Linked DNA regions of Homo sapiens. The protein of the gene in region 1 purifies or fractionates together with the protein of each later gene. This does not show direct contact. Each region holds a gene or a part of one and is shown on either strand. Other genes may lie near its edges. The genes, in order: SH3BP2, HAVCR2, RNF146, TNKS and PLCG2.

The links.
Region 2: the proteins of SH3BP2 (region 1) and HAVCR2 purify together in Homo sapiens (co-immunoprecipitation; one study listed by IntAct). This does not show direct contact.
Region 3: the proteins of SH3BP2 (region 1) and RNF146 purify together in Homo sapiens (affinity purification with western blotting, with the first as the bait; one study listed by BioGRID). This does not show direct contact.
Region 4: the proteins of SH3BP2 (region 1) and TNKS purify together in Homo sapiens (affinity purification with western blotting, with the first as the bait; one study listed by BioGRID). This does not show direct contact.
Region 5: the proteins of SH3BP2 (region 1) and PLCG2 purify together in Homo sapiens (pull-down; one study listed by IntAct). This does not show direct contact.

Annotation. Positions count from the first base shown.
Region 1 is NC_000004.12:2,823,204-2,829,512, forward strand, and holds part of SH3BP2 (SH3 domain-binding protein 2), read left to right. Parts: intron 1-1,409; coding exon 1,410-1,527; intron 1,528-1,922; coding exon 1,923-1,993; intron 1,994-4,026; coding exon 4,027-4,115; intron 4,116-4,402; coding exon 4,403-4,471; intron 4,472-6,289; coding exon 6,290-6,309. UniProt on the Homo sapiens protein: Binds differentially to the SH3 domains of certain proteins of signal transduction pathways. Binds to phosphatidylinositols; linking the hemopoietic tyrosine kinase fes to the cytoplasmic membrane in a phosphorylation dependent mechanism.
Region 2 is NC_000005.10:157,097,615-157,103,923, reverse strand, and holds part of HAVCR2 (hepatitis A virus cellular receptor 2 precursor), read left to right. Parts: intron 1-5,022; coding exon 5,023-5,066; intron 5,067-6,309. UniProt on the Homo sapiens protein: Cell surface receptor implicated in modulating innate and adaptive immune responses. Generally accepted to have an inhibiting function.
Region 3 is NC_000006.12:127,281,584-127,286,991, reverse strand, and holds part of RNF146 (E3 ubiquitin-protein ligase RNF146), read right to left. Parts: exon of another isoform or gene 1,644-5,408; intron 943-1,643; exon of another isoform or gene 815-942; intron 377-814; coding exon 1-376. UniProt on the Homo sapiens protein: E3 ubiquitin-protein ligase that specifically binds poly-ADP-ribosylated (PARsylated) proteins and mediates their ubiquitination and subsequent degradation. May regulate many important biological processes, such as cell survival and DNA damage response.
Region 4 is NC_000008.11:9,703,997-9,710,305, reverse strand, and holds part of TNKS (poly [ADP-ribose] polymerase tankyrase-1), read right to left. Parts: intron 5,644-6,309; coding exon 5,549-5,643; intron 4,120-5,548; coding exon 4,053-4,119; intron 3,496-4,052; coding exon 3,309-3,495; intron 1,936-3,308; coding exon 1,814-1,935; intron 352-1,813; coding exon 260-351; intron 165-259; coding exon 86-164; intron 1-85.
Region 5 is NC_000016.10:81,785,791-81,792,099, reverse strand, and holds part of PLCG2 (1-phosphatidylinositol 4,5-bisphosphate phosphodiesterase gamma-2), read right to left. Parts: intron 6,158-6,309; 5' UTR 6,111-6,157; coding exon 5,918-6,110; intron 1-5,917. UniProt on the Homo sapiens protein: The production of the second messenger molecules diacylglycerol (DAG) and inositol 1,4,5-trisphosphate (IP3) is mediated by activated phosphatidylinositol-specific phospholipase C enzymes. It is a crucial enzyme in transmembrane signaling.

The DNA.
Region 1 (6,309 bases):
GCCCTCTCCGCGTGTCCTGCCCTCAGGCGCAGGACCTTGGGGGTGCCAGGGTCTTCCTGTGGCTTTGTGCACAAGTCCCAGAGGCCTGGACAGCCTGCTCTCCAGAGTCTCCACTCGGCCACCACCCAGTGACTTCTGCATCTCTCCTCCCTCCCCACCTTGCCCCTTCACCCACCATGACCTCTTTCCAGGCAGCCCAGACCCCAGCCAGCCCAGGCCCTGTCCCAAACAGAGGCTGGGCCCTAGGATTCCCTGCTCCAGGGTCCTCCCAGGCCGGGATCAGTTTCCAGCTTCACGCATGTCCTGGGCTGGGCTCTATCCAGTGATGGGCCATGAGCTGCCCTGGAGGGCCTTCTGCACTAACAGGCAGGTGGGCGGTGGCCAGGTGGCATGTGGGTGGGGGAGTGCACTGGCACAGCCCATGGCCTGGGGCCCACACAAAGGGTTAATGCTGGCACCCAGCTCTGGTTCTGGTTGCTATCCCATCGGAGCCCTGCACCCCACAGCATTTATCTATGCCTCTTACCACCCCTTAAGGGCCCAGCCCCTCCTGCCTATGAGGAACCAAGGGTCACATGGTATCAGTAGTGGAACTGGGACCTTTGGAGTGACTCTAGGCCCCGGCCTGCACCCTGGCCACAGGCCTGGTAGGGCAGCCTTGCCAGAGCACCCAGCCTGGTGCCAGGCCCCCATGCTGGCACAGAGCTCCGGGGTCCCCTGGGGAAGGTCGTTCCCTTTCTGCAGACAGACACAGCGCCTTCCGGCCTCCAGCATGTGCCAGCCATGCCATGAACCCTGGGCCCAGTGGCAGATGCAATCATGCCCCAGGGAATTGTCTAGCCCATCAGGGAATGCTGGGCCTGAGGAGTTTTGGCCAGGCTCTTATGGGCCGTATAAGTGCACCTGCCCCGGTGCCTGGCTGGCAGGGCTCCCCACGTGATAAACTCAGCGCAAACCCCACATCCTGGCTGTGTGAGTGGGCCGCAGAGCAGGCACGAGTCATTCCCTGAAATGCACTCAGGGCTGCTGCTGGGCCTCAGGGGCACGGAGCCCTGTGGGGTACCCCAGGGAGGCCAAGCAGGCCTGGGCAAATGGGGCCAGAGGTGGGAGGGTGGCGTCCATGTAAAGTGGCATTGGCGGGCATCGAGGCAGGTTTGTCCTTGTCTCCTGTGCACTGCTGCTCCCACGAAGCCCACCCAGCACCCCTCTTCCATGCCCCTCCATGCCCCCTTACGCCTGCCTGGGCATGAAGCTCACTACTGGGAGCATCAGCAGCCAGGGCCCACCCGATCTGCCCTCTTCCGTTGGGGCGTGGTGCTGGTGCCGAGACGTGTTCACAGGGGGGTGCTGTGGGAAGGCCATCCCTATAGCTGTGAACCAGGCCGTGACCCCTGGCGCTGTGCCCCCAGGGTGATGCGGGCGGCTGAGGAGACCACGTCCAACAACGTTTTCCCCTTCAAGATCATCCATATCAGCAAGAAGCACCGCACGTGGTTCTTCTCGGCCTCCTCCGAGGAGGAGCGCAAGGTGACTGGGGGTCCGAGGACGAGTGCAAGGTGACTGGGGGTGTGGGCCTGCAGGCACCAGGCTGGACCTGCCTTGGGGGCTCGCTGGTCCTGGGGCGCTGGCCTCTCAGCCCCGGGCAAAGAGAAGGTGTGGCTGGGACACAGGCAGCTGGGTGGGTGCTGCCCCAGCTCCATCCCCATGCCCAGAGCCTGGTGCCAGCGCCCACACAAGGAACATGCTGTCCTGGGAGGTGCCCCTGTGGGCTGAGGGGAGCCACACAGCCATGTTGTATCCAGCCGGGTCGCCTCCTCTGACCTTGGGAGTCACAGCAGAGCAGGCAGGGCAGTGAAGGTGGAGGGGTGCGGTGGGGCCCACCCTGGTGGCACCGTGCCCACCACAGCCCCGCTGACCTGCAGAGCTGGATGGCCTTGCTGCGCAGGGAGATTGGCCACTTCCACGAAAAGAAAGACCTGCCCTTGGACACCAGGTGAGCCCGGGCCCAGGGCATACCGGGCAGTGAGGGTCCCTGGGGCGCCTGGGCCTGACCCGGGTGTCCGCCTCCCAGCCCCGGGCTTGGCATAGAATTCCGTCCTTAAAGGTTTCCTGGAGGTGCCAGCTGGGCTGCGTCTCTCTGCTCCTGTCTACAGATAAACACAGATACAGGACAAGCACAGATGTTCACACACAGACGAGCGACACGCGGACACGCACACACAAACACAAGCAACACGCGGACATGCACACACACAGAGCAACACGTGGACATGCGCACACACACAGAGCAACACGTGGACATGCACACACACACAGCAACACGTGGACATGCACACACACACAGCAACACGCAGACATGCACACACAAACACAGAGCAACACACAGACATGCACACACACACAGAGCATGCACAGGTGTGCATGCATCTCTCTGCTCCTGTCTACCTCCAGCCCCATCTGTCACATCTGTTTCTGTGTTGCCGCCATGGGTAGTTCCTGTTAGGGGATCATGTGTGTTTATACGCCTGCCACCAGGGAGGCCTGGCATGGCAGCAGCTGGGCACTTTGGGTTCCCAGCCCCCTACGCCCACCCTGGCTCACTCAGAGTGAGACCAGAATGATTCTCCTGGCGGGGCGCCACTGGGCAGTCTGAGCCTTGGCAGCCTCCCCCGTGAGCTGGCCCGACGTGCAGCAGATACTCTCTGGATTGGGACTTCCTGGCCCGAGACGATGTGGAGGGAACAAACCTTCCTGTCCTTTCACAGGTGGGGACAGGAGGCCCAGGGAGGGCTGGGCACAGCCAAGGCTGCCCTGCAGGTCCCTGCCTGACTCCGGGCTCCCGTCCCCTGGTCCAAGCTGTTCAGCCTCGGGCCCAGCCCAGAGTCGCCCAAGCCCTCTTGAGGCAGGAGCAGGTGGAGACGTGGGCACAGTCAGGGCGGCCATCCTTGTGGGCCAGAAGGGGCACCTAGTGGAGGCACCACAGCCTCCAGTTCTTCTGTCTGTCCTTGTAACTGTGTGTGCATGTCCGCGTGTTGCTCCGTGTGTGTGCATGTCCGCGTGTTGCTCTGTGTGTGTGCATGTCCGCGTGTTGCTCTGTGTGTGTGTGTGCAATGTCCACGTGTTGCTCTGTGTTTGTGTGTGCATGTCTGCGTGTTGCTCTGTGTTTGTGTGTGCATGTCCGCGTGTTGCTCTGTGTGTGTGCATGTCCACGTGTTGCTCTGTGTTTGTGTGTGCATGTCCGCGTGTTGCTCTGTGTGTGTGCATGTCCGCGTGTTGCTGTTTGTGTGTGCATGTCTGCGTGTTGCTCTGTGTGTGTGTGCATGTCCGCGTGTTGCTCTGTGTGTGTGTGTGTGCATGTCTGCATGTTGCTCTGTGTGTGTGTGCATGTCTGTGTGTTGCTCTGTGTTTGTGTGTGCATGTCTGCGTGTTGCTCTGTGTGTGTGTGCATGTCCACGTGTTGCTCTGTGTGTGTGCATGTCCTCATGTTGCTCTGTGTGTGTGTGCATGTCCGCATGTTGCTCTGTGTGTGTGCATGTCCGCGTGTTGCTTGTGTTTGTGTGTGCGTGTCCGTGTGTCGCTCGTCTGTGTGTGAACATGTGTGCTTGTCCTGTATCTGTGTTTATCTGTATACTTCCATGTCTGTGTGACAGAGTCCTTGTGTCTGTGTGTCTACATGTCTGCGCGTGTCCCTGTGTCTTTGTGTATATATATCCATGCCTGTGTGCCTGTGTTCCTGCGTGTGCTTGTGTGTGCACGTGTGCATTTGTGTGTTTGTCAGAGTATGTGTGCATGTGTGTGTCTGTCAGCGTATCCATGTGTGCATGTGTGTGTCTGTCAGCGTATCCGTGTGTGCATGTGTGTGTCTGTCAGCTTAACCATGTGTGCATGTGTTTGTCAGTGTATCCGTGTGTGCATCTGTGTATCTGTCCATGTATCCGCGTGTGCCTGTGTGTACCTTTGTGTGAGCATCAAGGGACCTCCCAGGCCTGGTGCTCACCGTCCGCCCCAACGCACCCTGCATTGCAGCGACTCCAGCTCGGACACAGACAGCTTCTACGGCGCAGTTGAGCGGCCTGTGGATATCAGCCTTTCCCCGTACCCCACGGACAATGAAGGTGAGGTCTTTCTCCGCATCCACTGCCCGTTTGCCTCTCCCCACCTGGCCTCCTCTTGGCCGCTGTGGAGGAGAGGGAGGTGTGTTCGGCTGTGCTCCTTGCTCTGGCCCTTTGGCAGTGCGCAGTAGCATCCCTGGGCTCTGGCCTTCAGCGGCAGGGTCTGGACTCACAGTCCTCCCAGCAGGTGCTTGCCCCTTGCCTCCTGGACTCAGCCCCATGCATGGAGCATTGCTCGGAGACTGGGCCTGGGCCGGTTTGGCTCTCACCACCCCCCTCTCCCCATGCAGACTATGAGCACGACGATGAGGATGACTCCTACCTGGAGCCTGACTCCCCGGAGCCCGGAAGGCTTGAGGGTAGGTGGGGCGGGTGGGCCCGGGGAGCTCTGGGTGTGTAGGAAGCAGGGGCTGGGACCGGGAGCAGAGCCCCTCCGAGGCTGGGGATGCTGGCCCAGGTACCGCTCTGGGTGGCTTCCGCTTCCCTGCTGTGTCCCAAGTATTATGAGGATTGGAGCAGAAGAGGTGTAGCTGCTGCCACCTCTGCTCATTTCCTCCTCCCACCTCCCAGGAGGAGGGACAGGCACATGGCGATAAGTGGCAGGTGGAGCCGGGGTGGCCCTGGGGGTTAAGCATGGGGAAGGAAGGACGCTGAGGAGCGCGCAGGCTCAGGGCAGGTCCATGTCCCCATGGCTGCCAGCTTGTGTGGACACTGCTGCAGGCCAGGTCGTTGTCCCACCCCACCCCATCCCATCCCAGTGTCCACCTACCTCCTGCAGCACATGGCCTAGTCAAAGAGACAGGCTGATACAGGTGGTCACACGTGGATGACGGAAGCACGAGCTGGGTGGGGAGGACGTGTCTCTGTCCTCCTCTGTCGCCTCCCTCCCTTCCTCCCTCCCTATTGTCTCTCCAGCCCCCTCATCTTGTCAATTTCCTCATGTCTGGGGCTGATCCTTGATCCTTCCATTTTCCCTGCGTCCGCCCTGCCTCCTTGTTTTCCAGCCTCCTGTTCTCACTGACTTGGCCTCTGCCGACCCCAGCCCCTGACCCCGTATCCTCTCTGCCTCCCATCCACTCCCACCTTCAGGCTCCCGGGTCCAGCCCCTCTTCTCCTGCCGCTCCCTCCCTCCTTCCCTCTGGGGTCCCAGTGCCAACAGTCCTTCAGCCCACGAGGGTCTGCGGGCCGCTTGCCTCAGTTTCCTTCCATGCAGAGCTCTTGTCTCACAGTGTTCACCATGCCTGTCCCTTCGCCCACACACTACTGCCTTCCGTCTTAGCCTGGCTGGCCAAGCCTTGGTGAACTCAGACTCCGTCTGCCCAGCCCTGAGCTGCAGCCCAGTGAGGCTAGAGATGGGCCTGGGGAGCCACCAGTGCTCCTGCATGCTACTGCTCCACTCACCCTCCCTCTGTACCCCCTTCATCCTCTCCCCGAGACATTTCTCGTCCAGGACGCCTGTGGCCTCCCCATTCCCAGTTCCAGCGCTCAGTCCTGAGCCACACCAGCCTGGCGCCTGCCCTGTTCCTTGCCAGCCCGTCCTCCAGGCGCCCCGTGCTCCCGGGGTCCTCTTTCTCCTCAGCTCCTGTGCTGGCCCCATGAGGGATACCCGGGACTCAGACCTCACTCCTCTCCCGAATTCCCTGGGTGACAGCCTGGGTCATCTGCAGGCTGCCCGCTCCGAGTCATGTCCAGCCTGGATTTTTGAACTCTGCACACATTCCCTGACCCCGCATCCCCTGGCATCTCCCAGCTTTCTGGATATGTTCTGAGCAAACACGGGCCTTCACCTTCCTCCCAGCTGCTCCCCTCCCCTGTCCTTGGGAATTCCGTCCTCCCTCTCGCTCCAGCCGAGCCCTGAGATCCTTCTTGACTTCTCTTCCTTTCTCTTCCTTCCACCTCTGGGAACCTGATGGGCTCCTCAGGTGTCCTCTAGGCTTCAGGAAGCGTCCACAGGCTGCCATAGGGAGGATGAATGGGGAAGGCTGGGGGTGGTGGGTGGTCTGGGACCCTGGGGAAGGCAGGATGGGAGTGCTGGGTGCTGGGCTGCTGGGTGGGCAGGCTGTGGGGTGGGCCTACCATGGGTTGCACTCCTGGTTGGCCTGGCTGACCACTGCCAGCAGAGGATAGTGTTGGCCCAGTCTCTGTCAGGGTCCAACCCGGGTCTCTTTGCTCTGCAGATGCCCTGATGCACCCACCG
Region 2 (6,309 bases), on another chromosome or scaffold:
TTTGTACATGTTAGCTGTTGTCGTTAATATTATAAGATCAGGAGGCACAGTGAGATTGTGGTTAAAGTACTTCAGTGACAGGTGGAATGGGTTCTAATTTCAGCTGTTCTTGATAGCTCTGTGACCTCAGTCAAGTTGCTCAAATTCTCTGAAGCTCAGTTTGCTCATCTCTACAATGAGGATAATTCCAGTGCCCATGTCATGAGGTGGTTGTAATGTATAAACATGATAATGTATGTAAAATGCTCAGCATAGTACCTGGCCCATAAAAAGCACTCAACTGTTTATTATTACTATAGTTACTGGTTTTAGCTCTCCAAAGTTTCAGTCTTTGGTTAGTCTTTAGTGATTGGTAGCCAACATCTTTTATGCAATTAGAGAGGAAACTAAATATGGTGGGGACAGAAAATAATAAAGTTATACCAGATACTTATTGTATGCCATTGTTATATTTTAAAGAATCTTACAACCATAGTGCTAGAAGGGACTTCAAGGGTCATTTAGTCTCACTTTCCCATCCTGTGCTTCAGTACTTTTTTTTTTTTTTTTAATTGAGACGGAGTCTTGCTCTGTCACCCAGACTAGAGTGCAGTGGCGCAATCTCGGCTCACTGCAAGTTCCGCCTCCTGGGTTCACGCCATTCTCCTGCCTCAGCCTCCCAAGTAGCTGGGACTACAGGCGCCCACCATCAAGCCCAGCTAATTTTTTTCTTTTTTGTATTTTTAGTAGAGACAGAGTTTCACCGTGTTAGCCAGGATGGTCTCCATCTCCTGACCTTGTGATCCTCCCGCCTCGGCCTCCCAAAGTGCTGGGATTACACGCGTGAGCCACCGCGCCCGGCCAGTACTTTTTACTACATCACCACTGAATGGGCATTTGCTGTAGACGGAGTTCACTCCCTGTCGAGGTGGTGCATTTCCTTATACTTGTCTCTACCACAGACAGAAGTCTTCTTTCCTTTAGTTTTTCTTTCCTTTTTTTTTTTTTTTGAGACGGAGTCTCACTCTCTCACCCAGGCTGGAGTGCAATGACACGATCTTGGCTCACTGCAAACTCTGCCTCCCAGGTTCATGCCATTCTCCTGCCTCAGCCTCCCAAGTAGCTGGGATTACAGACGCGCGCCACCACGCCCCGCTAATTTTTGTATTTTTATTAGAGACGGGGTTTCACCATGGTGGCCATGCTGGTCTCGAACTCCTAACCTCAGGTGATCCCTCTGCCTCGGCCTCCCAAAGCGCTGGGATTACAGGTGTAAGCCACCACGCCCAGCCTTCCCTTTAGTTTTTGTTTGTTAGTTCCTTCCCTCTAGGGCAACAAAAATGGGAATATAGGAATAATACCTCGAACCTCTGAGCTTCTCAAGGGCCTGACTGAGAAAAAATATTGAAACAACCAAAAATAGGTCAGTAGCTCCTAAATAGGAAAATAAAATAAAAAATTGAAATGAATGAATATTTAATGGTTTGTCTATAATATGTAACATTATGTAAATTGGCTGCTGGCAAACCAACTCTAAATGTGGGATGTGGGAGCATTTAATATAAAAATGGGGCTGGGCACAGTGGCTCACATGTGTAATCCCAGCACTATGGGAGGCCAAGGCAGGCAGATCACTGGAGCTCAGGAGTTCAAGACCAGCCTGGGCAACATGGCAAAACCCCATCTCTACTAAGAATACAAAAAATTAGGCTGAGTGCAGTGGCTCACACCTGTAATCCCAGCACTTTGGGAGGCCAAGGCAGATGGATCACCTGAGGTCAGGAGTTTAAGCCAGCCTGGCCAAGATGGTGAAACCCCTGTCTCTACTAAAAATACAAAAATTAGCTGGTCATGGTGGTGCATGCCTATAATTCCAGCTACTCAGGAGGCTGAGGCAGGAGAATTGTCTGAGCCTGGGAGGAGTGAACCGAGATCTCACCACTGTCCTGAAGCCTGGAAAACAGAGCGAGATTCCATCCCAAAAAAAAAAAAAAAAAAAAAAATAGCCGGGCATGGTGGCATGTGCCTGTAGTCCCAGCTACTTGGCAGGGCTGAGGCAGGAAGATTGCTTGAACTCAGGAGGTTGAGGATTCACTGAGCCGAGTTGGTGCCACTGTACTCCAAACCTGGGCAACAGAGCGAGACCCTTTCTCAGAAAAAAAAAAAAAAAAAATGGAGTAGAGCCTTTAAAAGTAAGAGATCCAAGGGCCTGGAATTTGAACACAGAACAAATGCAACTTGTCTTCTACCTGAAGGAGTAAGGACTGGGTCACAGGTGAGTCCTCAGCTCTAGAGTAGATCTGCTTTAAATCCTAGCTTTCCCAATTAATAGCTGTGTGATCTTGGGCAAAGTGGCTCTCTCAGACTCAGTATCTTCATCTGAAAAATGGGGAAAATAGTAGTACCTACTTATTGTGGTTGAGGATTAAATGAGATTGTATGTATATGGTGCTAAGCACCATGTCTGGCACCTAATAAGTACCAAATAGATGGTAACTACTAAATTTATACACTGTTAAGGCCATCACATCTCACCTCCGCTGCTACCTGCCCCACCAGGCAAATCTTGGTTTCTCCAGAAAGAACATTGCCACTCCCTTCAACTGTCCCATCCATCTTGGTTGGTGGCCAAATCTGTGTGAAAAAAAGCTGTAATGACACAACAGTGCTTGATTTTACTGATCATTTTCATAGCAAAATGAAGTTTTTAAAAAGTTAGTTTTACCATTTTTATCAAGAAAAATAATTATAAGGAGTCTGAAACTGGATTTACATTTAAAATCTTATGTGCACTTAAGATTCATGTTTACTTAGCAGTTGTACTGATGAGGGTCTTTTTTTTATTTTTTTGATATGGAGTCTTGCTCTGTCACCAGGCTGGAGTGCAATGGTGTGATCTCGGCTCACTGCAACCTCCACCTCCTGGGTTCAAGCGATTCCACTGCCTCAGCCTCCTGAGTAGCTGGGACTACAGGCGTACACCACCACGCCCGGCTAATTTTTTGTATTTTAGTAGAGATGGGGTTTCACCATATTGGCCAGGATGGTCTCGATCTCCTGACCTCGTGATCTGCCTGCCCTCGGCCTCCCAAAGTGCTGGGATTACAGGTGTGAGCCACTGCACCAGGCCTGTGGTTTTTATATTTTAAATTTTTTTCTGGTAATTAGGGCAAAAGTAATTGGAACATAATCTTTTTTTCTTCAATAATTTTAGGCTGAGGCTATGCCTTTATAATATTTAAACTATAGTTTGCTAAACCAGCATTTAGTCAAACCCTTTATACACATTAAGGCTTCCAGAAGGTGACAGTGACATTTAAGAAGTTTCAACATCTCTGACTCAGCCATAAAAATGAGTAAGCATGCTTAGTTTTCCAAAAGCTGGCAATGTACTTATTTTTAGAATTCAGTGTTCATGAGGTCAGGGCCTGTGCCCCTCTTGTTTCCTGCTCTGTCCCCTGTGCCTAGAGTAAGGGCATAGTGCATATTCATGGAATGGATCAGCAGATGAAGAAATAAACAAATGAACAGGAAGGAAAGATGGTGAGTGGGTGGCTGGGCAACGTGACCCTCTTCATAATGACAGCACTGAGGTAAGGGCTGGTGAAGGCAGTATAATTAAGAATGTGCATTTAAGGCTATGCAGACCTAAATTGGAAGGCCATTTTGTCATTTGCTAAGTCATGTGACCTTGGGTTAGTCACTTCACTTCCCTAATTTTCAGTTTCTTCATCTGTGCAATGGGACTAACAGTCTCTACTTTAGAAGCGTAGTTCTAAAGTAAGTGCTTCTAAGTATCTCTAAAATGAGCTTCTTCACTGAAAGAGTTTATTTAGCACAAGGCCTGGCTCCTATTACATTGTGACCACAGTGATTATTTTCATTTGTTGGCAACCCTGTCTCCCTTCTCATGAGTAAATGCAAAACTTATTTAAGAAAATGGAGGCTGGGCACGGCACGGTGGCTCACGCCTGTAATCCCAGCACTTTGGGAGGCCGAGGCGGGTGGATCACTTGAGGTCAGGAGTTCGAGACTAGCCTGGCCAACATGGCGAAACCCCGTCTCTACTAAAAATACAAAAATTAGCTGTGTGTGGTGGTGTGCCCCTGTAGTCCCAGCTACCAGGGAGGCTGAGGCAGGAGAATCGCTTGAACTCAGGAGATGGAGGTTGCAGTGAGCAGAGATCATGCTACTGCACTCCAGCCTGGGTGATAGAGTGAGATTCTGTCTCGCAAAAAGAAAAAAAAGAAAAAGAACATGGAGGTTGCAGTGAGTTGAGATTGTGCCACTGCACTCCAGCCTGGGCAACAGAGTGAGACTGTCTCAAAAAAACAAAAAAGAAGGAAATGAATTTTTGTTGTCTTTTAAAATCTAATTAGAATATAATGCCTGAGGCCAAGCCTGGTCGTTCACACCTGTAATCCCAGCATTTTGGGAGGCTGAGGTGGGCAGATCACCTGAGGTCAGGAGTTCACAACCAGCCTGGTCAACATGGCCTCGTCTCTACTAAAAATACAAAAATTAGCTGGGCGTGGTGGTGCATGCATGTAGTCCCAGCTACTTGGGAGGATGAGGGATGAGAATTGCTTGAACCAGGGAGGCCGAGGTTGCGGTGAGCTGAGATTATGCCACTGCACTCCAGCCTGGGTGACAGAGTGAAATTCTGTGTCTAAATAAATAAATAAATAAATAATGCCTGAGTCTTATCAATATTGCTAGATGTTTGTAGAACTCATTAGGGTCCTGTGAAAAAAACAAAGCACATATTTAATGTAGGACTTCCTGGCAGAAGTCTCTATTTCATAAAACAGTACGGTTCATTATCTAGATGAAAAAATGTGGCCATCCTAAAGTTGATTCCTGGGTGTTCAGTAAATTTTGTCTGTCTCTCCATTAATTATTGTGACAAGTACGGAGTAGAATTCATTTCAAATAGGATTATAGGCATCATTAAGATTTTTTAAAAACTTAGATAAAAGAAAACGTTCTTAACTATACTATTGGCTATTTTTCCTCTCTCTCTCTCTCTCTCTCTTTTTATAGCAGAGACACAGACACTGGGGAGCCTCCCTGATATAAATCTAACAGTAAGTAACTTTTTTTGTGAGCTATGTTGTACTCAACTTGGAGGGGAAATCATGGCTTTAGACTTCCTTCATGCCCACCTTGTCCTTGGGGTAAAAAGCCTTAAGTTCCCTTAGCTTCAGATTCCTGGGCTGTAACATGTTGATGATGACAGTTCTAACCTCATAGGCCTGCTGTAATGAAGGACTGACATGATGTGTGTAAAGTGCCTGGCATATAGTAAGAGCTTGAAAACCACAAAGAAGAAACATTAGCATTTTGTCCCTCTTATTCTTCAATTTCACAACTGTCTACCCTGTGGAAGGTTCAAAGATTCTTCATCTCCCTAGAATACCATTCTTCTTGCTTCCATTGCAATCCTAATGGGAAAGAGTATTTAAATTTATCTCTTTAAATATGGCAAGACACCAGTCAGGAATATTCAAAGTGAAGAGGTTTTTTTTTTTTTTTTTTAGACAGAATTTCGCTCTTGTTGCCCAGGCTGGAGTGCAAGGGTGTGATCCTGGCTCACCTCAACCTCCGCCTCCCGGGTTCAAGCGATTCTCCTGCCTCAGCCTTCCGAGTAGCTGGGATTACAGGCATGAGCCACCACACCCGGCTAATTTTTTTATTTTTAGTAGAGACGGAGTTTCACCACATTGGCCAGGCTGATCTTGAACTCCTGACCTCAGGTGATCCACCTGCCTCGGCCTCCCAAAGTGCTGAGATTGCAGGCGTGAGCCATGGCACCTGGCCTAATTTTGTATTTTTAGTAGAGACAGGGTTTCTCCATGTTGGTCAGGCTGGTCTTGAACTCCTGACCTCAGGTGATCCGCCCAACTTGGCCTCCCAAAGTGCTGGGATTACAGGCATGAGCCATGGTGCCCAGCCAGTTTTATGTATTTAACTATAAATAAAGCCATACCTTAATAAACCTCAATTTTACTGTCCCTGCTACCTTCTCAGAATAAAAGAAAAACTGGCTGGGCGCAGTGACTCACGTCTGTAATCCCAGCACTTTGGGAGGCTAAGTAGGGTGGATCACCTGTCAGGGGTTTGAGACCAGCCTGGTCAACATGGTGAAACCCCATCTCTACTAAAAATACAAAAAATTAGCCAGGTATGGTGGTGTGTGCCTGTGTAGTCTCAGCTACTCAGGAGGCTGAGACAGGAGAATCGCTTGAATCCAGGAGGTGGAGGTTGCAGTGAGCTGAGGTCGCGCCACTGCACACCAGCCTGGGCAACAAGAGCGAAATTCCCTCATAA
Region 3 (5,408 bases), on another chromosome or scaffold:
TTCCAGCTCTCTACTAGTGCGCTCATCGTACTGCCACCACCCATTTCTTCCTTCATAATACCATGCATATTCACCATTTCCTCTACTTGCTGCCTTGAGTTCTTCTGGTGACAACAAGGTTGGCTTGTCAAGGAAATCCTCGGGAATTTCTTGTCGACAAAGAGCACACCGCTTTCCAAGCCATGAAGCTCCTTTTACACATAGATAGCAGAAAACGTGCTTACAGGGCAGACTGACTGGATGAACACATGTTTGCAGACAAATGGCACATTCAGGGACGGTTAAAGAAGGTGCAGTATTAGAACAGGACTCGTTCGCTTTCCTGTTTGTAGGAAGCATGTTTATTGAATGATCAATTTCACCACAGCCAGCCATCCTAAGAAAAAATACATATAATATTAAAGTCATGTTTTAATTCTTGCAATATCTTAATTTAACAATTATGAAAACACTAACCACCTATGATGTGCATTATATGCAAGCCACATACTAGACAATGGGGATATGAAGATGAAAGTAGAGGAAAAACTCTCCAACCGATGAAAATTTTTTGTAAGCATCTACTTGTACATACCTTGGGAATGTATAAAAATTCCATCAGTGCACTTAACAGATCAGCCCTGGAGAAACACACTGAAGAACTATATAATGAAAAGCTGCATCCAGTGAGGGGAAAAGGATACCTTGAATCATGGCAGCTATTATACAGTGAAATGAATGCTAGACAAGAAATCTAAAAATCTGAGTTTTAGAGTCCTTTATTAATTATGTGCTCTTAGGCACTCAGTTAAACCATTAGTCTAAATTTCCTTACCTGCAAATCAGAGTTTACAAAGCTCAGGTAAAAATGGACAAAAAAAGTGCTTTGTAATCACTAAAGCTTCATAAAGGTAACAATCATATAAGACCAAAGGAGAAAATAACATGAATATTGAAGATCCCCTGAAGAGGAAGAAGAAAAAAGATTTGTCAAATTGGATGTATCTAGCTTAAACACTGACATAAAATTTATAATTTCTGCCTTATTGATTCAGATAAACATTTACTAAACACCTGCCATGTTCCAGATACAATACTAAGTACTGATGGGTCTAAAGATAAATAAGACACACAACTACTCTGTTAAATAAGGAAACATACATGCAGATAATTACAATATGGCCTGATTCCTGCGTAATCAAAATGTGTTAACATACTTACTAAAATAACAGTAAGAGAGAGATGAGAGGATGGACATAGGTTAGAAAGTTTAGTGTTCATTCAGAGGGGCTGGGCAGTGGAGCAGATTCCAGGCAGAAGCACATGCAAGACACTGAGTCAAATAGTCATACAAGCAATGGAAGAGCAGGAGATGAAGGTGTAAAGGTAATCAAAAGTTAAGTCATGAAAGCCTTATTGTGTTATTGTGCCCTGCCAAGGAAACATCTAATTTTTTTCCCCATGGTAAAAAAAAAAAAAAAAAGACATTTTAAAAGGGGAGAAAATAATGGAGTAAACCACTGATAAGTAAAAAAGACTGAGAAATAAAGATGAAGATGTCAGAGATTGAAAGCTTAAAATGAATGACAATCTCTCTGCCAGCTAATTCTGCCATTCTAAATGGGTCAGTAGTTACAAAAGATATAGTCAACAAGAATGCTTACGCTCATCAAAAATTGAAAAACAATAATCCTAGGCTATCATCACAGCACATTCAATCTTCAAACAATCCTTTTTTTTCTTTTTACTGCCTTTTCTGTGTTCTTGGTTCCTCAATAGACAAGGCTCAAAAAGATGGCAATTTTCTAGTAAAGGAAGCAACACAGTAAGTTTTTAAAAAGATGGCACATATCTAGTAAAGGAACCAACACAGTCTCAATGGAAGAACTGATCACTAAAATGTTTAATTTCCAAATTATTTTCAACTTTTAATAACATTTCCAATCAATTCCTTTACCAGAAATTCTAGGTTATAGACATCAAGAAAGTACAACTTTCTCCTAACCTATGGAAAGTTCTAAGTCAGGGGTGTCTAATCTTTTGGTTTCCCTGGGCCACACTGGAAGAAAAAGAATTGTCTTGGGCCACACATAAAATGCATTAACACTAATGATAGCTGATAAGCTAAAAAAAAAAATCACATAATGTTTTAAGAAAGCTTATGAATTTGTGTTAGGCCGCTTTCAAAGCCATCCTGGGCCACATGTGGCCCACAAGTTGGATAAGCTTGTTCTAAGTAAACCCTAATAGGACGTCTTAGTATGTTAAGCACTATAAAAGCTTTCAAATATTTTGAGATAAACACTTGCCTTCAAAGATCTTGTAACTTGAAACAACAATAAGTTACAAAAGAAGGCATATGTTTTTAAAATAGCCAATTACACATTCCCTGCCTATTTCCTCCCCTAAAAGAATTGGCTGTGCACACATTTTGTTAGGTTTTCAGAAACTTTCATCCCTTTCGATTTAGGTCAAAAAAGTTAGTTTCCATAAAATTCCTGAAAATCTTTTTGTTCCAAGTTCCATATTTATTTAAAGCTCCAATTAAGAAAAAGAAAACAAGAAAGTGATCCATTTACAAGTAATAATTTAAGAAAGATTCTACTCATGATTCTATTCATGAGACTAAATAGAAAAATGGGCTGATGACCACCATTACTTTGGAAAAACAACAGCAACATCTTCATATAAGAAGTCTACATCTTAAACCATCTAAGTACCTTATGAACAAAGGACAGGATCATAAACTGAAAACATAAATAAAAACAGAGTCTGGTAAAATGAAAACAAGACACCCAACATGTCACGTGGACCAATGCCATGCTTTTAAATACATAATTCCAAACCTATTGTATTTGCTTTAAGTAAAATGGGCCCAAGAAGTCAGTTTTCCATCACATACAGCTCGTTTATCTACAGAAAAAAAAGTTTCCAACCTAAAAACATTATCCTCCACCCTACTTAATATGATTAATATTTTGCATGACTCTTACTCTTGCATTTATGAATAAACCAAAACACATAATTTCAAAACTAAGAAAGCAATTACAATCATCCCAGGAGAAGGCATGAATTATAATAACATAATTGGAAAGGCAAAACAATCCTGTTTGTGCAGGTATTTTGGTTCCATCATCAGAATGAAGTGAAGTTGGACAAAGTTAATCTGCAAACAATGGACACCAGACAGCTAAATGGTCATTATTTCATCTGAAGCACTCTTAACTATCAATTTGCCATAGCAATTTATAAATTCTGATTCTGTTTAGCCCATCAAGTATACTGTTAGTCTATCACCAACTAACAAATGGGCAGAAAAACTTAGTGATATTTCTTATTTAATTCTGAATGAGGCACATGCAATAAGTAAGATAGAGATAAAATGTGTAACAAGATAGACACAAAGTAACCCCAAACTGCTAGTCTACCTATAAGACATACTTCAAGGCTTTTTAAAAAACCATTTTAATCTACCCTACACAGTCTCTGTTTTGCAGTTCCAATGATCTTAAAATAGGTGGGAGACTAAATGTATGCAGATGATCATACCAATATGTAAATAAGAAAGCTTTTCCCCTCCCTTTGTGTAGAGCAAGTATTAATGCTAATCAAAAGAGGTATTCCCTATCTCATAAATGTCTCAGAAAATTCTAATTTTGAAAAAGGGAATTTATTTCCAGTTTACTAAACTAAGAATTTAATACACAGAAATTTGGAGTGACGTTAGTCCAATTCTATTAATAAGTATAATACATCATTTACTTTCAAAGACGTTTTTACTGAATTCTTCATGTGATATTCCAACTTTTAAGTATAAATCCCCTTCTTCCAATAGATAAACCATGTGAAATATTTCTGCCAGACTAATAAGAGTCTATTAATACTAAGTCTTCTTCTCAAGAAGACAAAATATAGAGGGGTATGGGCAGAGTTAGTGGAAATCTCCAAGAACTCAGATTTCCTTGAAACTTCTTGGACAACTAGTCAAATGAAAGGCAAAATTATTATAAGCAAAAAAGATCTTTAGTATGTGTAGTATTCAAGAAATTTTTAGCTTGCAATAAAAACTCCAAATATTAAAAATCAGATTTTTAAAGTCTGAATTTAGAATCCAATTACAGACACACAAAAAGGGAACAATCCTACATATAATTTCAAGGGGCTTAAGGATTTCTATGAAGCTGGTCCACATATGAACCACTAATGAGACAAGAGGAGTTCACTGAAAGGTTTTACGTCAGGAAATAACAGCCAGTTTAGTAGCTTCCAGACCATTTGAACAGCAGGTTGGAGGAAAGTTTGGTAATGCAGGAGGAGGTATGGCGAAAGGGAAACTAGAATATCCAGGTAGTAATGCAAGTATAAGATAATTAGAGGGAGGTTGCTGATGTAAGTTTCCAACAATAGAATAGAAGAATGCTAAGGAAAAAGAAATGAAAGCATTTGATTACTGATGGATGGTGACACATTCACCAAAATTCAGAATTTGAGGAGAGTTCTGTCTCAGACATAATGACTTTATTAAGGTCTCCAGGTGGAGATAGGTAGATGACAGCTGAATTTACTAGTTTGATACTCCAAGAATAAATCTGAGCTGAAAAAAGTCTGGTGACTCACCAACACATACATGGTCCTTGGAGCCATGAAAATGAGTAAATGCCCAAATTAAACCTGTAGAGAGAGCAGTCAAAAGGGCCAACCACAGAATCTTGAATTACTCCAATATCTGTGAGGTAAAATAGCCAGGAAGGGGTGTAAGGAATGGTCAGAGAAGAACAGGAAATAAAGATAGACCACCACCACAAAAGCCAACAAGGGAGACATTCGCAAAAAAGAATAATCAAGCAAGTTACTCTAAGTGACAAAAATTTCACCATACAATTCACTTTTGTGTGGTGCAAAAGTTGTGAACCCCACACACTTAATAGCTATTTTGATTTCCTAAACACCATCAATCCCAGTAAACTTTTACTCGGCCAAGACATCTTTCTTTCCCTATTCCCCAGAGACTATCATAAAACTTCTCCCTCCTAGTTTATCGATATACTAACACCTGTATCACTGAGAAATTAGGTAAGTCAAAAATAAATCCTGAAAATCTATCTTTACCTTTACTGTCTTATCATTATTCCTCCTGGCTCAATATGGGGTACTGCTACTTGTTTACAAAGCTAACCCCTCAACATCTAGTAAGTACTGTCCCCTAACTCCTCCAAGACTGATCAATATACTCTGTCCCTAAGTATCAAAATCAATTAAGATTGATTGTATGTTAAATAAATGTAAAATCTGGTAATATAGTAAGTACTAAATAAATGTTCACTCCCTGCACTTATTTTGAAGTCTCTTTCTCCTACCCTGCCTTCCCACATATTACTGTTCCCTGACTCCTCTAAAATGTGTTGATGATTAGGCAGCTGTTTCCCTCC
Region 4 (6,309 bases), on another chromosome or scaffold:
GAAAAATCGGAGAGAGAGAAGCAGTGTTAAGAGCAGCTGGCTGCTCAGTGCTGAGTCTGGCACTCTGCTCAGGTGTGTGCCTCACCTTGGCGCCATGCTTATGCAGAACTTCCATGACATCATTATGGGCTCTTTCGGCTGCAACATGCAGGGGAGTCATGAAACTACAGAAAAGAGGAAAGAAAGAAAAGGTAATTGTCTCTCTTTTATTGCATTTCCTCTTTAGGAACTGAACAACTCCTTCTGCAATTATACTTACTCTTTATTTTTTTCATTAACATTTGCTCCTTTTCTAAGTAACAATTCTGTCACTTGTTTACGTTTGGGATGCAGAGAGGCCACAGCACAGTGCTATAAAGTAAACAAAACCAAGTTAATAAAATACACTTCCATATGTACAGTAGCTCTTGGAATTGAACAGTATCTGCTGACCATTTAAAACATTGTTATCTCAGAGTATCAGAACATATGTATATGTTTTATATCACAGAGATGATCCATATTCTTTCTACGTATAGTGGAAATACAAAACGTAAGCGTTTAAACCAAGGTGAAATTATGCTCTTAAACATTAAGAGAGATCTTATTTCTTTTGGCTTAGCCAATCAATAAATATTCACTATATATTCCATGGAGAGCATCATAATACGTATGCCTCTGCAACGCTACAGAAATCTATAACTAAGTTACTCAATCTTTCATTAGGCCATCAGCCACACAAGTCAGTATTTCTAAGCTCTTCTACAGAGGTACTCCCAGCACTACAGGAGACGTTTATATGCCCAAGGATAAGCAAGAAAATGATAGAACTGAAGCAGTTTAGAGAAAAATATTCTCAGAAATTTTAGGTTTTAACATAATATTTATACAACTTTTTTATTCTGCTTCATTTTAATATTCGTATTAAAATTTAAAAATAAAAAACTACTTTCAACTAAATAAAATGAAAACTCCAAAAAAGTGGGTCAGGTTTATTCTGTGGCTATGAATATCTCCTAGCATAACACCGTGTAGCTTGAATCTATCTCAACCCTAGTTTGAGAGACATGTATTTAAGTGTACATATAGTTAGCCTATTTCAGTTTGGTCAATCCTTTAATGTTGTTTTATGCAGATACTGACAAACGTTTGATCTTTTGTGTCAAATATACGTAAGAATATTAATTAGGTATATTTAAGGTCTGTGATGCAGGCATCACATATGCTTAAATTCTGAATTTAGGAGCGATCACTAACCACTCTCTAGCTGAGCCTTAATGTGTCAATGACAAAGAAAATAAATAAATCTTTCCGAAAGTGCATTTGAAGAAAAAAACGTGGATAGTTTTAAGAATAATTTGTATAGTATCAAACAAAAAATTCATGATCTTGCCATTTTTCTACCATGAATATAATCAGTTCTTTGAATACAATTGCTCAAAAAGATAATGCAAATATCTAAAAATATACTTTAATCTTCTACAGAAGGAAATCTAGTATTTATCTAGCAAACATAAGAAAAAAAAATTCTATTGAAAAATCATATCTTGTAGTTTATGAAAGCACTGGCCACAAAAGTGGATTTGTTATAATGAGGTGGGGAAGACAAAGGTAAAATAATTTCCAAATTGAGGTTGAGCAAATGTCAATTCTCTCACCCATGAAAAGAATCACCCCCCAAACTAAGTTTAAAAATCAATGCAACCAAAATTAACATGCAAATTCCTGGCATTTCAGATACTAAAGTTACTTTAAGGTTTCTGAAATGAAAATCATATTTTGTGCTTACGTTATTATTATAGACACAGGGAATAGATTAACAATAAAATCTTACCAGTGCTGTTTCATGAGACTGCGGTTGTTTGAAATTAATGATTTCCAGAGCGAGTGTTTTTTTAACTTTAGCTAAGTCTGCTTCTCTGGCTGCTTGTAGTAAAGAATGACCTTTAAATTCATCTGTCAATGAAACAATGGTTGACATAAAAAAAGATGTAAAAATGTATAAAAATCTTCAGCATGATTATAAATAAGTAGGAATATTATTATTTTATGAATTTCTCTATTTTAACAACAGCAGCAATGTGATAATATGATGATAAAAATGCAAAAGATGAGGATGTAGATTAATGTGAAGTATGTATGCTCTGAAATAAGACTGTTTCACACTCTCAGAGTCATAAAGATACACCTATAAAGATACTTATTGCAGCAAAATTTTGAAACAGGAAACCTAAATGTCCACCAAAAGGAAACCAGTTAAATAATTTGTGTGCACATATGCTGTAACACTTTCTAGCTCTTAAACAAGAGATAGGTCTACATACACTGACATGAAAGTATACAGTGGTACATGAAAATTCAAAAAAGAAAGGACAGGCTGATGCATTATTTTTGGTATTGTCACTACTCTTGCTACTACTATTGCCACCATAAGTACACCATAAGTAATGGTATAGAAAACATTTACAGAAATATTTACCAAAATATCAATGGTGATTAGGTCTTGACACAGAAAAGGAAAGGACTAAAATATGGGAGAAATGCAGAGCTTGAAAATTTTTCAAAGAACAATTAATAGCTTATTATTTTCATAACCAGGTGAGAGATTTTTTGAAAAGCTGTATCTAAATTAATTGCATGAATGAGAATCCAATATTTTTATATCTTTAACTATGCTGAAACAAAAAGTTTATTTAAAAAACATTTGCATGTATATATTGGTAATATATTCAGAAGATGACCTCAACCTAATTATTTTTAAAATCTCACTTAAATATGGGAAAGTGATTATACTTGGGTCATAACACACATGACAAATAAAAATATGATTGTGCAGCCTTGCAGGGCTCGGGAAATGGGGAGGGCTCAATAATGCTAGATACCTGTCACTGTCAATGGCACAAGAACGTAAGCCCATAAGAGGTTTCAATAATGCTAGATACCTATCACTGTCAATAGCACAAGAATGTAAGCCCCAGAAGCTCAGAGCTTTTTAATGGTTTGTACACTGCTATATTTCTAGTGCCTGCCACATTGCAAGTATCCAAGAAATGGATGCTGATTGACTCATCCTCATTAGCCTTCAAAAAACCAAAAAAGGAGCTTCAACATACGAATTAAAACTAGGCTCGAATAAATACAATATATACAAAAAGTGTCTGTATATAACATTCCCATGGAATTCATGAAGAAAAGTATACAATTAGAAATGAGGATTATGAATTAGTCTGCTTGTAAGAATGGAAGGTTATTATTTAAGGTAGATAAAACTCAACAGAAATTAAATATTCCAATTTATGCGATAATGATTTCGGGATATAAATACGTACAAGTCAATCTCTCCCTAAGCTCCGGAGTTGGAGCCATATCCACAGCACTTTTGCCATGGCAGTTGACTAATGTAGGATCAGCGCCATGGCTAAGTAACAAAGAGCAGACTTCTACACGGTTCTTGGAAGCAGCCTCGTGCAGTGGAGTAAACTGCCAGAGATCCATGGCATTAACACAAGCTCCATGCTGAATTGAGAAAAAAAACATTTTAGGTCAGTAATCATTTTGCTGGATCAAATAAAACTCAAAAGACATTTATTTCTTTGTAAATTTCAGTTATAACTTGTTCAAATAAGTGTTTTAATTTCTTCAATATCACCTTTCAAAAACAGCTGAAATTAAATTCAATGTTTTAAAAATTTTAAGGCAATGGTAATATGTTTAAAAACGTATTTTATTCTCTTAAAATCTAAAAAAACAAGACTGGGCAACATGGCAAAACCTCGTCTCTACAAAAAACATAAAAATTAGCTGTGCGTGGTGGCACACCCCTGTAATCCCAGCTACTGGGGAGGCTGAGGGGGAGGATCACTTGAACTTGGGAGGTTGAGGCTGCAGTGAGCTGTGAATGTGCCACTGCACTCCAGCCTGGGTGACAGGGCAAGACCCTGTCTCAAAACAAACAAACAAAAAACCCCAAAGAACTAAACAAACTTTCATGAGGCCGAAAGTATGGAAAGTCATGACAAGGTAAAGAAAAAAAAAAAAAGTAAATGATGCTCAATATTCTGAATTTCTCTTACCTTTAGTAGCAGTTCTGTGACTTCATAATGTCCATATGAACATGCATTATGAAGAGGCACAAGTCCACTAAATGAAAAGAGGCAAATTAAAATACTTAAATTTCAAACAACTTATTTATCCATGTCGTACTAAGAAATAAAATCCAATAAATCCCAATACAATTATTTTAAAATATTTAAAAGTATTTAATAAAATAATAAAAGAATTCAAAGCATAGCTTATGTTCACACCTTTTGTATTTATCTTGTTTTTTGTATATAATCCTTGAAGATAATGAAAAAAATACCAAATAGAAGAACATTTTGGCGAAAGGAAGATCATATGCTAATTGACAAATGCATGCATTATATATTAAGTATTTACAAGAAATAAATGTTAATTGGTAGTGAACTGAAATATTCCACCATTTTAATTCACTTTAATGGTAATTTCTAGCAAAATAATCAAATATCCAAACTATTATAACTTGCATATCAAAGTATTCTAAATAAACCAAAAAAACCCTTTTTTTGTGGTGTACATCTCTTGATGACTCACCTATTGTACACCCATCTGTTTTCAGACATGCACAAGGAAATAGAGATGTACAAGAGCATCAGGCATTTATGCCCCTATACTACTGGGACACCATTCACATATGGCACAAAACCTGGTGCAGGCAAGAGAACAGCACCAGAAAAAGCAGATTGGAAATGGAAGAATTCTTCTGGTAAGTGTCTCAAGCATTGAGTTCATTTTTATGTTTCTTGACTTGGGGAGGGACAAAGTGAAAGAAACTCTCCTCTAGGGCATCTCTTCTTTATGCTGTCAGTCACAAGACTGTAACATAATCTACCTTACCTGGGTAGTAGGGTTAATTATCTTTCAGATCTTAAAGTGGGGCAATGAGAAATGTTAGTCCACCACATAGGACAGCAAACCCAATGATCGTATATCTCTGGAGACTTTACAGGAAACTGATACAAAGTTTTCAAAAATGACCTACTGGTAAAATAAATGACATAACTGCTTTTTTAGTTACCACCCATATCCCCTCACATCAACCTTCTAGGTTTTCTCAGTTTAGATGTCCAAGATTTCACCAGAAAAAAAATTTGGTATTGTATACTTATGATTTTGGTTTATCAATAAAGGATGATCCTTTACTATCTGTTGAATCTGATAGCTATGCTACTGGATTTTCATAATTTTCAATTTGTTTTATTTTTCTAAAATGCAATTTAAGAGTTGAAAAACCCTAACTGCAACTGAGACACAATTTCAACTTCAAGTAACAGAACGGTGATAAAATTAAATTGATTTGGGAAATTATTATGAGAAGTATCCTTAATTAAGTAGGTACATGAAAATAAAGCCTCAAACCAGAGTTATGAACATTCTTAAAACGTTATGTAAGCCGTAACAAATGGGACATATGACTTTGTCTAGTGTTTTAAAAGTTTAGAGTATCAGACAAAAAACAAAGCACTGACAGGAAGTAAACTGATAGACCTACCCTTTGTCTTTTGCATGAACATCAGCACCATGCTGAAGAAGAAGCTGAACTATTCGAACTCTGTTGTAGCCCGCTGCTAGATGTAAAGGAGTCGACTAGAAAAGAAAAACATCCCCTTTTCAGGTAAAAACAAACAAACAAAGAAAATCCTTGCTTTGCCATTTCAGATTTAAACACAATGAAAGTTGACACAAAAATACTGCGCTGAAATGTCAAAAATTCACATTTCATAACTTAAGGAGAGATAATTTACTGCCCTCAGGAGTCAATACTAACTTTAGTGCCATCCACCTATTTCACTTACTTGTTTTTTTAAGGCCATCAGTAATCAAACCTTACCCTACCTATTCTACATGATTTCCTATTTCTTTCCAACATGAAACATTCTCACTGTTCTGAGAAGACACACCAGGGCTCATGTTTCCTATAATTGGAAACATTCTTCCTTATCCTACTTAAATCCTGTCCTCCTTTCAATTTCTAACCTTCAAATCCCAATTCTACCATAAAACTTTATCTAAAGATCTAGCTCTCAAAATTTCTTTAATAGGAAAGATTGAAAAACATCCCTAAAGAACAATTTGAACAAACTTTAATGGAAACAAAAAGGACAATGGGCCTTATTCATTCTGTACGGCGGCTAGTAATGGTCAAAACTAATTTGCTACACTGGGTGCAATGATGTATACCAAGGTAGCATTTAATTCTTCCATTTTATGTACCACATACACAGTGTAAAGACAAGAGAGGAATACAGTTTC
Region 5 (6,309 bases), on another chromosome or scaffold:
GAGCTTGGCTGCTGGTGGCCACCATCAGTTCCTGCCTACCATCGATATGCATGCCATTCCTTCTCTAAGAGAGAAATTTCCTTTCCTTGAAGCTGAGCTGGGCTTGCTGATCTGAGTTGGTGCAAGTGATGTCCTCGGATTTATGAGGCTGTCGTAAGAAGCCTGTAGCTTCTGCCTGGGACTCTTCTGCCTGAGACCACCACATGGTAGATGTTTGGTCAACAGTCCCAGCTAAGGCTGGGTGCAGTGGTTCATGCCTGTAATCCCAGCACTTTGGGAGGCCAGGGTGGGCAGATCACGAGAGGTCAGGAGCTCAAGACCAGCCTGGCCAACATGGTGAAAGCCCATCTCTACTAAAAATACAAAAATTAGCTGCATGTGATGGTACCCACCTGTAATCCCAGCTACTCGGGGGGCTGAGGTGGGAGAATAGCTTGAACCCAGGAGGCAAAGGTTGCAGTGAGCCGAGGCTGCACCATTGCACTCCAGCCTGGGTGACAGAGATTCCGTCTGAAAAACAAACAAACAAAAAATAATCCCAGCTAAGCTCAGTCTTCCAGCCATCACCACTAAGGTATCAGATGTGTGAGTGAAGATTCTGGAACCTTCCAGGCGAGGTGACACCAAATGACCTCAGTCCAGGCTACAAAGAGTAGAAGAATTGCCCAGCTGAGCTCTGCCCAGATCTATGACCCACAAATCTGCTTGTTTATATTACATGACACCCATTAATCCCACAGGATCAGGGCAGCCATCCCTGCTAACCATCTAGCAAATCTCTCTAAACTCCACCCAAGCAGCTCCTCCACAATGAGCCCTCCCCATTCCTCACCACCTCCCCCACATCCAAATGGACAAAAACCTTCCCTCCTCACACCACATCCAGTGAAAACTCCTGCTATGGTACTAAGCACACAATCTTGCAAGGGCAAGTTTGAGTCTGTCTCCCCCTCTTGCAAGCTGGGACTCCATCCTCCTCCTCCCTCTCTCTGCAGAGTTTAGCACTCAATATGATGGCAAACATGTGCTGAACAAATGAGAAAATTCCATCCAAACAGGGTTCAGAGCAAAACCCTATTTTACCCAGTGACATTTTATTGCTGTGAGCAAAGCAAACACATGACTCTAGAGCAGTTTCTCAACCCCTGCACCACTGACACGTTTGCTGGATCACTCTCTGTGGTGCGGACTGTCCTGTGCACTACAGAACATTTAACAGCCTCTCTGGCCTCTACACACTAGATGCCAGTAGCACCCTGTATCCCAGGTGAGAAAATCAACACGTCTCCAGACTTTGCCAAATGCCCCCTACCCTGGAGTAGGGAGGGAGAGGCAAAAATCACCCTGGTTGAGAACCACACGCTGCTTTAGACAGTAGGACCTAGGTATTTTACCCAGGTCTGCACAGGGATTGTAACACCTGTCCAAAAGTCACACACCATTTGCCAACTATTCCAAAACCAGGTGCCGGTGCTCCTCTCATGTGCACCTGCCCCTGCAGACCCCACAGTAACCAGCAAGTTCCTGCTAACCAGAACCCCGTGAGGAAATTGCCAGAGCTGGGAGTTCTTCTTGAGATAAAACGTCACCCTTCTCAGCAGGAGACTGAGCGGTGACACTGACAGTCCCCACCCAGGGCCTGAAGGCCTGCTCTCTCAAGGTGTGAGGGAGAAGCACCATTTCTAAGCTCTTCACACATAATTGGCTTTCCCTGTCACTTTACCAACACCATCATTGCAAACAGGACCTCCACTGCATGCTCAAAGATGCAAATCCAATCACGTCATCCCTCTTCTGAAAACCTGAGAATGGACCCTACTCCCCTCCAGTCCAAACCCCTAAGGAAGACTACATAGGCTGGACTCCACTAGTTAGCAACAACAGCAAACATCCTGAAAGTGGTGGTTCCCAACAACTGAGTGCCTGTCACACACTATGAATTCAGCCGAGCCTCTCCAATGCATCTTCTCATTTGCTTCTTCCCAACCATGAGCCTGTGGGGTAGACACCAATGTTATTTCCAGTCCACAGATAAGGGAATTAAAGTTCAGAGAGTGGAGGTAACTTGCCCAAGATCACACAGCAAAGCTCATCCAAGGGCACTGGAAGTCAAGCCCCAGACTGCTCATACCTAATAAAGCAATATAGGCTCCACGGAGATTTGAATCCAATTTAATAACTGCTGTATCTCTAGCGCCTAGGGCGGCGCCTACAGTGGGCATCCAAATGACAGAGGGGAGGCAATGGAGGGGGGGCAAAGGTGGGAAGGGAAGGAGAAAGAAAGGGAAAGTGGGAGGGAGAAGAGGAGGGAGAGGAGGGGGAAGGTGGAGGAAGGGCAGTGTCTCTCCAGTGGCATATGTGTGAAACCTGCCTAGTTACCAGACCATCCGGGGGACTTATTATAATAATACGCCCCAGCCAAAGTGGTGAAATATCATCATTCTTGGTCTCTCCAGGGAGAAAGAAGAAGGAAATAAAGAGGCTGAACAGATAAATAAAAGAATGAATTGAGGCCGGGCATGGTAGTTCCTGTCTGTAATCCCAGCACTTTCGGAGACCAAGGTGGGAGGATCACTTGAGGCCAGGAGTTGGAGACCAGCCTCGGCAACATAGCAAGACCCTATCTACACAAAAGTTAAAAAATCAGCCAGGCATGGTGGCACTCACCTGTAGTCTCAGCTACTTGGGAGACTGGGCAGGAGGATCACTTGAGCCCAGGAGTTCACAACTATAGTGAACCATGATCAGGCCATTGCTCTCTAGCCTGGGCAACAGAGCAAGACCCTGTCTCTAAAACAGAGAGCGAGAGAGCGCATCCGCGTAAGCGAGTGAAATGGTATTACTCAGCAGAAGGGGAGAATGACAGGGCATAGATTTCAAGCCAAAATCCTGTCTCATGCCCATCACAATGAGCTTCAGAAGAAGGTTCTAATACCCTGTAATTTCTTTTTTGTATATATTTATTTTATTTTATTTTACTTTAAGTTCCGGGATACATGTGAAGAGCATGCAGGTTTGTTACACAGGTGTATACACATGCCATGGTTAATACCCTATACTTACAAGATCCCCCCTGGGTGTTTCTGATGGGCAGCTAGGTTTGGGATGGGCAGGTTGAGAAGAGAAAGGAACAACCTGCAGTCCAGTCTCAACGTGGCCCATCTGTATTTACCATCAGTGCCAACCCTCTCACCCCTTGTGGGGGAAGGGAGGGTGGCCACCCCAGCTGCAACAGGTTTCTGGGCCACCTGGGGGTGGAGCCGGCCAATGCAAACAGTCAAGAGGGAAGATGGCCACCTCCACATGGGCAGTTCCAAAGCAGGGCTCTGGCTCTGTGCCACAAGAGACCCACTGGGCTCCAAAACCAGGAAAAGCCTTTCAGAAAGCAGTTTGATCACACTCATGATAGGATACATCAAATTAAGGATGACACCAAGCTACCAAAGTCTACCTGTGGATGGCCAAGTTCAGCAGCCACGCAGCATAGATGAGGGTTCAGGCAACAGGTACTTTTACATCCTGTGGCTGAAACAGACAGTGGGGGCAACCTCTTTTGTGGGGTGCTGCCAAACTTCCCTTTAAAGTTAAAATATGCCATACCCCCATCCTGCCTAACACAGTGAGACCCCGTCTCTACTAAAAATACAAAAAATTAGCCGGGCGTGGTGGCGGGCGCCTGTAGTCCCAGCTACTCGGGAGGCTGAGGCAGGAGAATGGCATGAATCCGGGAGGCGGAGCTTGCAGTGAGCTGACATTGTACTACTGCACTCCAGCCTGGGCAACAGAGCGAGACTCTGTCTATTAAAATATATATATGCCATATCCTTCAGCTCAGAAATAAACCTTCAGGAAGCTGTCCTTCAGATATACCCATATATACAAATGAAGAATAATGCAACGATCACCCTTTTCTACCACTGGAAGGAATATAAATGGTGCAGCCACTTTAGAAAACAGTCTGACAGTTCCTAAAATGATGAAACTGAGTTAGTGTATGACCCAGCAATTCCACTCCTAGGTATATACCCAAAACAAATAAAAACAGACATCCACACAAAAACTTGTAGAGAAACATTCTTAGCAGCACTATTTATATTAGCCAAAAGGTGGCAACAACCCAAGGGTCCGTCAACAGATGACTGAATAAACTGTGGAATACCCATACAACGTATCGTGATTCTGCCACAAAAAGGAAAATTTCTGATCCACGCAACAAAGTGGATGAACCTTGAAAAATGCTGAGTCAAAGAAGCCAGTCACAAAAGCCCACATACATAGGATCCATTTCTATGAAATGTCCAGAATAGAGAGGTTTATAGAAACAGAATTAAATTTAACGGTTGCTTACGTCTGGTAGGGGGGATGAGGGGATGGGGTGATGGTGAAAGGTATGGGGTTTCATCTTGAGGTGATATAAAGGTTCTACTTTTGATTGGAGTGGTGCTTGCACATTTATATAAATATACTAAAACCACCACACTATACATGCTGCATACAATGGGTGAATTCTATGTATACTATGTGAATTATGTCTCAATCAATCTATTATAAAAAAAAAAAAAAAGAGTGCAAGGCTGGGTGAGGTGGCTCATGCCTGTAATCCCAATGCTTTGGGAGGCCAAGGAGGGAGGATCACTTGAGCACAGGAATTGGAGACAAGCCTGGACATAGTGAGATCCCATCTCTACAAAAAAAAAAAAAAAAAATTAAATTATCCAGGCATGGCGGTGCATTCCCATGGTCCCAGCTACTTGGGAGACTGAGGCAGGAAGATCACTTGAGCCCAGGGGGCTGAGGCTGCAGTGAGCCATGATCATGCCATTGCACTCCAGCCTGGGTAAAAGAAAGAGACCTTGTCTCAAAAAAATTAATTTTGTTTTAAAAAAAAAAGAGTACAATGATAGTCACTTCGAATAATAACAAAAGCCTGGAAATAGCATGAAATGCCCTTCTCTGGAGTTAAACTGTTACATTGAGGCCTGTGCCATTACATGTCATGTGTCCAAGAAAGAATGAGATCAATGTGTGCTGATAAGAAACCACCGCCAACATCATTATTAATTAACAAAAAGAAGTCAAGGTGCAGAAGTGTACAAGAGTTCCCAATTGTTTTCTTTTTAAACCCACACATTATGCAAGCATAGACTATTTTGGAAGATAAAAGTAACTGGTAATGAGCTTGCCTCAGTAGGATGGTTTAGGGAGGAGAAATATTTGAGTTGACTCCTTAACCCCCAGGAATATATATTTCAATTAAAAACTAGTTAATTTAAAAACACAAATTAGAGCAAATATTTGCAACTGAAAATTGCTTAAGTGCCTTTACTCTATTTGTTAAAAACAGTCTTAGAAACTTTAGGATCTGAACCAGCTGCCCAATCAAACGGAGGTAGGGGAGGAGGGACACCTCTACCAAGACCAGACCTGCATTTGAAAGCTACAAAACGTTCAACAACTCACTCTCCCTGCTTGGAGACTAAAGCAAAGGCCCCTCACTGCTATGGTATGCAGTAAAACAAGGTAGCATTTGGCGACCAAGCTATGAGTTTCTGCAGGCTTGGGCTAATTCGCCCTTAAGAGGAAAGATGACTCGACCAGTTGTGGGAACCAGACGATCCCTGATGCTGTCAGACAGGGCACAGAACCACCAGGCAAGGAGAGCTGCCTGAATGCCATTTCCATGTTGGCTGACCTCAGCTTCAGTTCTTTCACCAGAGTTTTCCCAGCTGAACTTCCTCCACCTGGTGTAAACCTCATCAGAGATCCACACAAACTGGCAATGCTTTCATTTTAAGACGAATAAAAGAACACATCAAACCAACAACAATCACAGTAATGACAAGACAGGAAGGTGGACAGGTGCTCAGGCCAGGGCCCCAGAGGACGGGCCACACTGCCCCACCCAGCGAGTACTCACAGAAGCCCTCGATCTTGTCAGCGGTCTTGCTCCAGGCCACCTGCCGCGTCTCCATGATCACCTGGACGGTTCTCCGCTCGGGGGTGGACTTGCGGAAGCTGAACACAGTCATCACCGTCCCCAGCTCCAGGGCTCTCTTGATCTGGCTCTTCTCATATTCCGCAAGGGAATCTACATTGACCGTGGTGGACATTGTCGGCCGCTCCAGGGAGAAGGAAGGAATCGGGAGAAATCAGGAAGCTGAAAGGGCAGAATTAAAGAGTGAACTGATTTTAGTACTGAAAGGGGTTTAGTTAACAGGGCATGAACTTCAGGAACCAAAATCCTGTCTCATGTCAATCAGGATGAGTTTTAGGAGAAGGTTCTAGTGGCAAGGCATCGCTGGCCACTCA